Homo sapiens: one gene and its partner. Each later gene encodes a partner of the first gene's protein in a complex. Each region holds a gene or a part of one and is shown on either strand. Other genes may lie near its edges.

What was found.
Region 2: KAT2B (region 1) and MYSM1 share a complex: the UniProt entries of both Homo sapiens proteins name them as parts of the large chromatin remodeling complex.

What each region holds. Positions count from the first base shown.
Region 1 is NC_000003.12:20,043,435-20,047,185, reverse strand, and holds part of KAT2B (histone acetyltransferase KAT2B), read right to left. Parts: intron 1-3,751. UniProt on the Homo sapiens protein: Functions as a histone acetyltransferase (HAT) to promote transcriptional activation. Has significant histone acetyltransferase activity with core histones (H3 and H4), and also with nucleosome core particles.
Region 2 is NC_000001.11:58,658,459-58,662,209, forward strand, and holds part of MYSM1 (deubiquitinase MYSM1), read right to left. Parts: intron 3,054-3,751; coding exon 2,948-3,053; intron 2,770-2,947; coding exon 2,712-2,769; intron 1,698-2,711; coding exon 1,539-1,697; 3' UTR 1-1,538. UniProt on the Homo sapiens protein: Metalloprotease with deubiquitinase activity that plays important regulator roles in hematopoietic stem cell function, blood cell production and immune response.

The DNA of each region.
Region 1 (3,751 bases):
CAGCTACTTGGGAGACTAGGGTGGGAGGACCACCTGAGCCCACTGCACTCCAGCCTGGGAAGCAGAGTAAGACCCTGCCTCAAAAAAGCCTCAGAAAAAAAAAAGGGGGGGGCAAAACAAAAACCATTGATGTTTTTTCTTTCTGTGCTGCAAAGGTATTTGTCTAAAACAGGCTTTCTCAACTTCTGTTAATTCTATTAATATTTTGGACCAGATAATCATTCGTTGGGGGGAGTTGTCCTGTGCATTGTGGGATGTATAGCAACATTACTGGCCTCCACTCACTAGTTGCCAGTTGCATTCCCTCCTCCCAACTGCAAAGATTGAAAATGTCTCCAGACATTGTCAAATGTCCCTTGGGAGGTTAAATAGCTCCTGGGTGAGAGCCACTGCTCTAAATGCTGACAAATGAAAAAGACAATTTGCTCTCTGGGGGAGTGACTGACAAATACAAAGGTGTTGGGGGCGCTCTCCAACTATAAGGCTTGTTCTAGTGCCCCACCCACCAGCCCTTAGCCAACAGAGGATGCTTTTTGTTTTGTGGTGGCACATCTACCTCTGCTCTCTGTATATTCTACAACCAGTGCTACTTCTAGATTATAAATCATTATTATTATTATTTTGAGACAAGGTCTAGTGCAGTGGCATGATCTCAGCTCACTGTAACTTCTGCCTCCCAGGCTCAAGCCATCCTCCCACCTCAACCTCCTGAGTAGCTAGGGACTACAGGCACGCACCATCATGCCCGGCTAATTTTCGTAATTTTTGTAGAGACAGGGTTTCACCATGTTGCCCAGGCTGGTCTCGAACTCGTGAGCTCAAGTGATCCGTCTGCCTTGGCCACCCAAACTGCTGGGATTACAGGCACAAGCCACCATGCCCTGGGCCTATTTTTTCAATTAAGACTAATTTTATAGTCCTGTACCCATGAAACTCCTTAAATGTGGCACCTTGCCGAGAACCCAAGCAACTGGGTTCTCCATAAATGCTTTGTGGCCACTGACTCTGATATACGAGTAAAGCACCAGGCAATTCCGTTTATTTAGCCAGCATTAACCTAGCATCTTTATGTTCTAGGAATTCTGGGGACACTTTTTTCTTTTAACTTTAAGGTTGAAGTCATGATCACCACTTTATACATGCAGTCATTGAGGCTCAGAGAAAAACTAAGTGACCTGTGCCTAAGATCACACAAGTGGCAGAGCTGGGGTGGATTCAGGACTGAGTCTGTTGCTCTTACTTGACTTTCAAGTTAACAGCGTCTCCCCTACCTTCTGAGGGCTTGCCATGGGCAAGACACCATGCTGGATGTCTAATACAGCCCATTTTAAATCCTCACTGTTATGCCATGAGGCGGGTAACATCATTCCTTTACAGACAGGGAAATAAAGGCTTAAATGAAATCCTTATCCAAGGTTGCAGAGCTGGATATCCCAAAATTTGAATTCAGATTAGCCTGAACTCTGAAGCCCATGTTCTTAGCCACTATACCCTATTGCCTCCTCTTACGTATTAATATAAATGGCCTGCTCCTTTAGGAAGGGTTAGTCAATGGGTTTTGTTTCTCTTTTGAAGTTAGTAGATGATATACTTTAATTCAAGAAGATTTGGATTTGGCCTACTCATACATTCACTTGGGGTTTCTTTTATAACATTAAAAACCCAATCCCAAGCAGGCATGGTGGTGCAGGCCTATAGTCCCAGCTACCCAAGAGGCTGAGGTGGGAGGATCACCTGAGTCAAGGAGTTCAAGGCTGCAGTGAGCTATGATCGTGCCAGTGTACCCCATCCTGGGCAACAGAGCAAGACCCTGTCTCTAAAATAAATAAATAAATAAATAAATAAATAAATAAATAAATAAATAAATAGGCCAGGTGCAGTGGCTCACACCTGTAATCCCAGCGCTTTGGGAGGTGGAGGCAGGCAGATTGCTTGAGCCCAGGAGTTGGAAACCAGCCTGGCAAACATGGCGAAACCCCATCTCTACCAAAAAAAATACAAAAATTAGCCAAGTATGGTGGTGCATGCCTGTGGTCTCAGCTACTCAGGAGGCTAAGGTGGAAGGATCACTTGAGCCTGGGAGGTACAGGTTGCAGTGAGCCAAGATCACGCCACTGTACTCCTGCCAGGGTGACAGAGCGAGACCCTGTCTCAAAAAAATAAATAAATAAATAACCCAATCCTATCAATATCTGTGGGACACCTAGAACTGTCCTATATGACAAATCTCTACTTAGTTGTCAAGAAGTGATTAAGTTAAAATTCCACAACTGCTAACATCACAGCTAATCATTTCTTCCATTTTCTCTTCTCTGGTTCATTCGCTTAGTCAATAACCGCATGGCTAAGAATCTATTCAAAGATTCTAAATGCACATCAAATAATCATACAAATCATAAAAATCATAATATAAGCACCAGGAAGAGTACAGATGAATTTGGATAATTTCTAATGGGAAGGCTGCTCAGGGGGGTAAAGGAAAGGCAAGGAATCTGAGTTCTATAGGAAGGGTTGGGAGTTAATTTTAAAATGTGGAAAGAAGAGCTTCCAGTCCCAGTGAACAGCATGTGCAAAGCCCCTCACCCCACCTCACCCCCGACTAGGTGAAAGGAAACCATGTGCCTGAACCCTCGATAAGGAGCCACAGATAGCAGTAGCCAGGCCATGCAGGGCCTTGTGGACCACAATAAAGAGAAATTAAAGGGCCTGAAGTGTGGGTATAACATGGTCAGATCTACTTTATTTTATTTATTTATTTATTTTTTTTTTTAGGGAGAATCTTGCTCTGTCACCCAGGCTGGAGTACAGCGGTGCAATCACAGCTCACTGCAACCTCTGCCACCACGCCTGGTTAATTTTTTATTTTTTGTAGAGACGAAGTCTCACTATATTGCCCAGGATGGCCTCAAATTCCTGGACTCAAGTGATCCTCCCGCCTCGGCCTCCCAAAGTGCTGGGATTACAGGTCTGAGCCACTGCGCCTGGCCTAGATCTACATTTTTAATGAACACAGAACCAAAATGACTCTGAAGCAACCTTTACCAGGACACAGTTCAAAGATCTGGATCCTGCGAAACAAGTTTGTTTGTTTCTTTTCTTTTTTCTTTTTTTTTTTTCTTTTTCTATTCTCTGGGGTGTGGCACGTCACCCTGGCTGACTTAGCTCCCTTCTTTTTTGGTTTCGTTTGTGAAGTTTAAAGGCCAGATTTATATCAGGCCTGGGACCTGTTTTTCTTTCAAAAGCCCCCCAGTGAACTACCTTATCTCTTTCTAGATCCCTCCTCATTCTCTAATCTCTCTAATCTAACTTGCCAAGGGGCCTGTGGCAAAGGTAGAGCAATCTGTCCTTTTGGGCTTGCTCATATTAAGTGCAGAAACAAGCTGAGAGAGAACCACAGATTTTGCTCTCTTACACTCCCTCGTACCCAATCAAGTCCAGTTAAATTTTTTTTTTTTTTAAAAAAAGCAAATCTGAGATAATGTCACTCTCCAGGTTAAGATTCCTGCACTCCTCAGTGCCCTCTTGGCCACGCACCCCAGCCGGTGGCCCTAGGCAACAAAGGTCTGGCTCAGTTGGCCCACCTCCAAGCTTCCACAACTGCTTTCAGTTTCTCCACTACAAGAAGCTTCACCCCACCCCACTCTGCCCTGCCAAGAGTTCTTAGCAGCCACTGACACTTCCTCCAGGAAGCCAATCCCACCCTACCAGTGCCCCAGTCTATGAACTGTCCTGCTCTGGGTCCGCAACTACT
Region 2 (3,751 bases), on another chromosome or scaffold:
TTAGACTTCAGTTACACAAGAATTAAGGCTCAGGGAAAGTAAACTGTATCTCCCCAAATCACAAAGTTGAGACAAGAACCAGGTCACCTAAAGCTGACTCACTGCTTCTTCCAATACTCCTTATTCTTCATTGGCTATTGATTACAAACAAAGCAAAATATAGAATCAATCTGATTTAGATATAAGGAAACGTTAGTAAGAATGTTTGGTGAATAGCTATAAATCAATTCTCTGACTACTAAGAAATAAACTAAAATCTACTGAATTTCAATAAATGAGGCAGCATTGACTGCTTATTTTATTTTAAAATTGGCTTAAATGCAGATCATAATTCTGAGTTTTGGTGTCATTTGAAGATGACGTAAAGCTTAACAAATGTAAAACAAAATTCTAATGTTTAAAATTCTCTAGATCAAGGGTTGGAGAATAATAGCCAACAGCCTATGTTTTATGAGGCCTGTGAGTTAACAATGGTTTTTATCATTTTAAAGGGCTGTAAAACACACACACACACACACACACACACACACACACACAAAGAAGAATGTCTCATAGACATCATATGTGGCCTGAAAAGCCAAAATTATTTACAAACTGGCCCTTTACATTAAAAAAGTTCACTGACCTCCATTATAGATTCAGAAAGCATATGAAACTGGGCTGAATATGTAACATGTCCTGAAAGGCTTGTTTTAAAAATTAAATCTCTGATTTATTCCAGCTTTATTATCATTTGCCTCTTTCTCCTAGTAGTAGGCAGTAGAAAAAAAGTTTGAGTTATGATTACCTATGTTCCAGTTAAATGAGGTTTTATCACACCTACTAATGTAAGTGGACTCACAATTGAAGCTAATTATTTTATGTGTGTAAAATTGGTTAAAAATTTTCAGATAGCTGAGAAAATGGCATATCTTATGATACTACTGCTATACAATGAAATGGAAGATAGTATCTATGATTAGAAACTGGTAATTTAGTTCTCTCCTTTGGGTTTTTCCTGTTTTTAAGATTTTCTTGTCATGCCTCTCCTGGTCTCCTGTTAGATTTATTAATCAGTAGTTCTAAACCATATTAATTATCTCAGTGACCACCCATCCATATCTCATTTATAGCCATAAACAAATCTCAGCAGAATATATGGAAAGAATGGAAGTGCTTTTAAATGAAATAGGAGATACCACAATGGAACATAAATGACTAGTTCAGGGAAGAAATGACTTAGAGACATAGTCCAAATCCCAAGCTGAACACAACAGTAAAGCCGACCAGGTTGCTTAGTTTCACAGCCTACAGCATTGCTCAGTAAAGGACTAGAACACCGTGGTGGACCCTGGTTTGCAGAACACTCTGATAATCACTATATGAAAACAAATTTGTATCTCTTCCTTTTCACATGATTTATGTGGCAAAGTTTGGATTTTGTGAAATAGAGAAAAAATACCAAAGCTGTGCCAATGTTAACTACAATCACTTCAAGTTTATAACTTTGAAAGTAAGATCTACTGTGTCAAGATTAAAATGTCTTAACTTTAAAATAATCACATTAACAATTCCTTTGTACAGTTCTCTTCGGTTACTCCATTCTCTTGGTTGCTTTTATAATTGGAAAGGAACAAATTTTCTATTTCAGTCAAGAATTCTTCAGCCATAAAGCAATTGGTCACTTTGCTCAGAGTCTTCCTCATACACTCCAAAAGCTAGTTGAAAAGAAAAGTTTTATATTTAAATACAGAAAAAGTATGAGGGTTTGCATTACTATCACTATTTCGTCCCTTTCCAGACCTCACATTTCCTAATGCTCAAATGAGAAACACTCTCCTTAAAAATGGTTGAAGATTAACTTGTGTTTAATAGTCACAGAGCTGGAATGTAGGAAATTGCTGCTGAGGAACACTCAGCTTAGTACTTTTATGATTTTACATAAGGAGACAAACCTGAGATTGTTTATGTGATGCTTTCTACTTCGGACGTATTTGCGACTTTTCTCCATTTGTAGTTACACTTACAAAGCAAAATAATCCTGAGTATACACACACACAAAAATCTAGGTACATAAAAACATAGGATTCTGCATTTCAAAATGAGGATGCTAGCTGGAGTCTATTTCCTTGGAAATGTGCACATACTTTTTCAACAACACACAAAAAACTGGATATAACAGAAAGGAGTAAAACATATTAAAAAGAAACTTAATGTTTAAATTTTCTATCCCCAATTGCTATTTAAAAAGACAAATGTTGCAGATCTACTAGCCTTCAATCATTACAGAAGCAAAACCTAGACGTGAACTGACAGAATTCAAAACTCTTATTTCCTATTAGAAAGTTAAATAAAATGACTATTTAAATTTAATTGTTAGATTTATACCATCATTCTTAAAAATGACCAATTGTTAAGGCTAAAATGGAAACATGGCACTTTCAAATTTAATAAAATAAGAAAAATGTTCTCCATTGTGTATAATAATAATCTGCTAAAATCAGCCAACACTGACAAATTTATTCTAAAATAGAATTTTTTCTATGTGCAAGCTTGGGCAACAAAAAACGTTACTAATTATCTCCTAGAAATTAATTTTCCAAAGGAAAAAGTAATAAAAGAAATATACAGAAAATTATCCACAAAGTATTAGGCATCATGGGAAAACACATTGAGATGAATAGCTTCAGAATCTGTGAACAATGGAACCAATTAAAATGAAGACAGCTTACTTTCTGCAAACAAGTCAGGTCAGAATCCCGGCGAAAGATTTTATCCATGGGGACGCTGCTGTAGGAAGAAATATGAAAACAAACTGGTGAAACGAATACTATAAACTAATCAGTTTCATAATAAACTATCACGGATGCCATACATCACAATTTTATATTTAACTTGGGTTTTCTCTGAAACATAATTTAATGAGCAACACTGCAGATGTGCAACCATCTCAAACCACAGTACATACCTATGGGAGAGCCTGTATTTTTCTATTATCCATCTTGTCTTTTCAAATACTAATCCCCACTGAGGTTCTTCTAACATCTGCTGTACTTCAAATTTGTAAGGTAAGCCTAGAAAAGCATAAAGAAGCACATTGTCATCAACTATTTCTTAACTCTCCAATCTCCTTTTAATTATACTTAAAATTCCCTTCGGTGTTTTTACAGCCATAGCTTTGCAGATCAGCTGAACAGCACTTTAAACATAGTGGGCATTCATTAAATATTTATTGCCCGATTGTACTTGGTCCACTAAGCATATTAATGCCAAGCTATTAATAATAATAATGAGTAAAAGTGCCATTTACATGACAATTCTACGCATGGCACTATGATGGGATGATCACGTAATTTATCACCTAAACCAAGAGACTTTTTGAATGAAAGAAGGTACTATTAATAATTATGCCTGAACCGCAGGTTTAAAGTGGGATTATCCTAGACAAACTAAGACATATTGCCATCCTAGTGATAATTAAAAATATATATATATACAGGTTATTAAGCTTACAACAATGCTGTAAGTTATTGTTTTTTTTTTAACAGGTGAGAAAACTGAAGCTGAGATACATTAAAAATCATATTTAGGCTAGCAAAGTGGCAGGACACAGATGTTAAAACCCAGCAGGTTTGCCTCACTTCTGAGCCCAAACTCATTCCACCTCCCTAGAAGAGCTAATCTAAGACTAGACAAGAGGATAGGATGAACTCTGGGGAGGCAGCAACTGCTTTGAGTCAAAGTTGTTATACTAAACTCTGGAGGAAAGAAA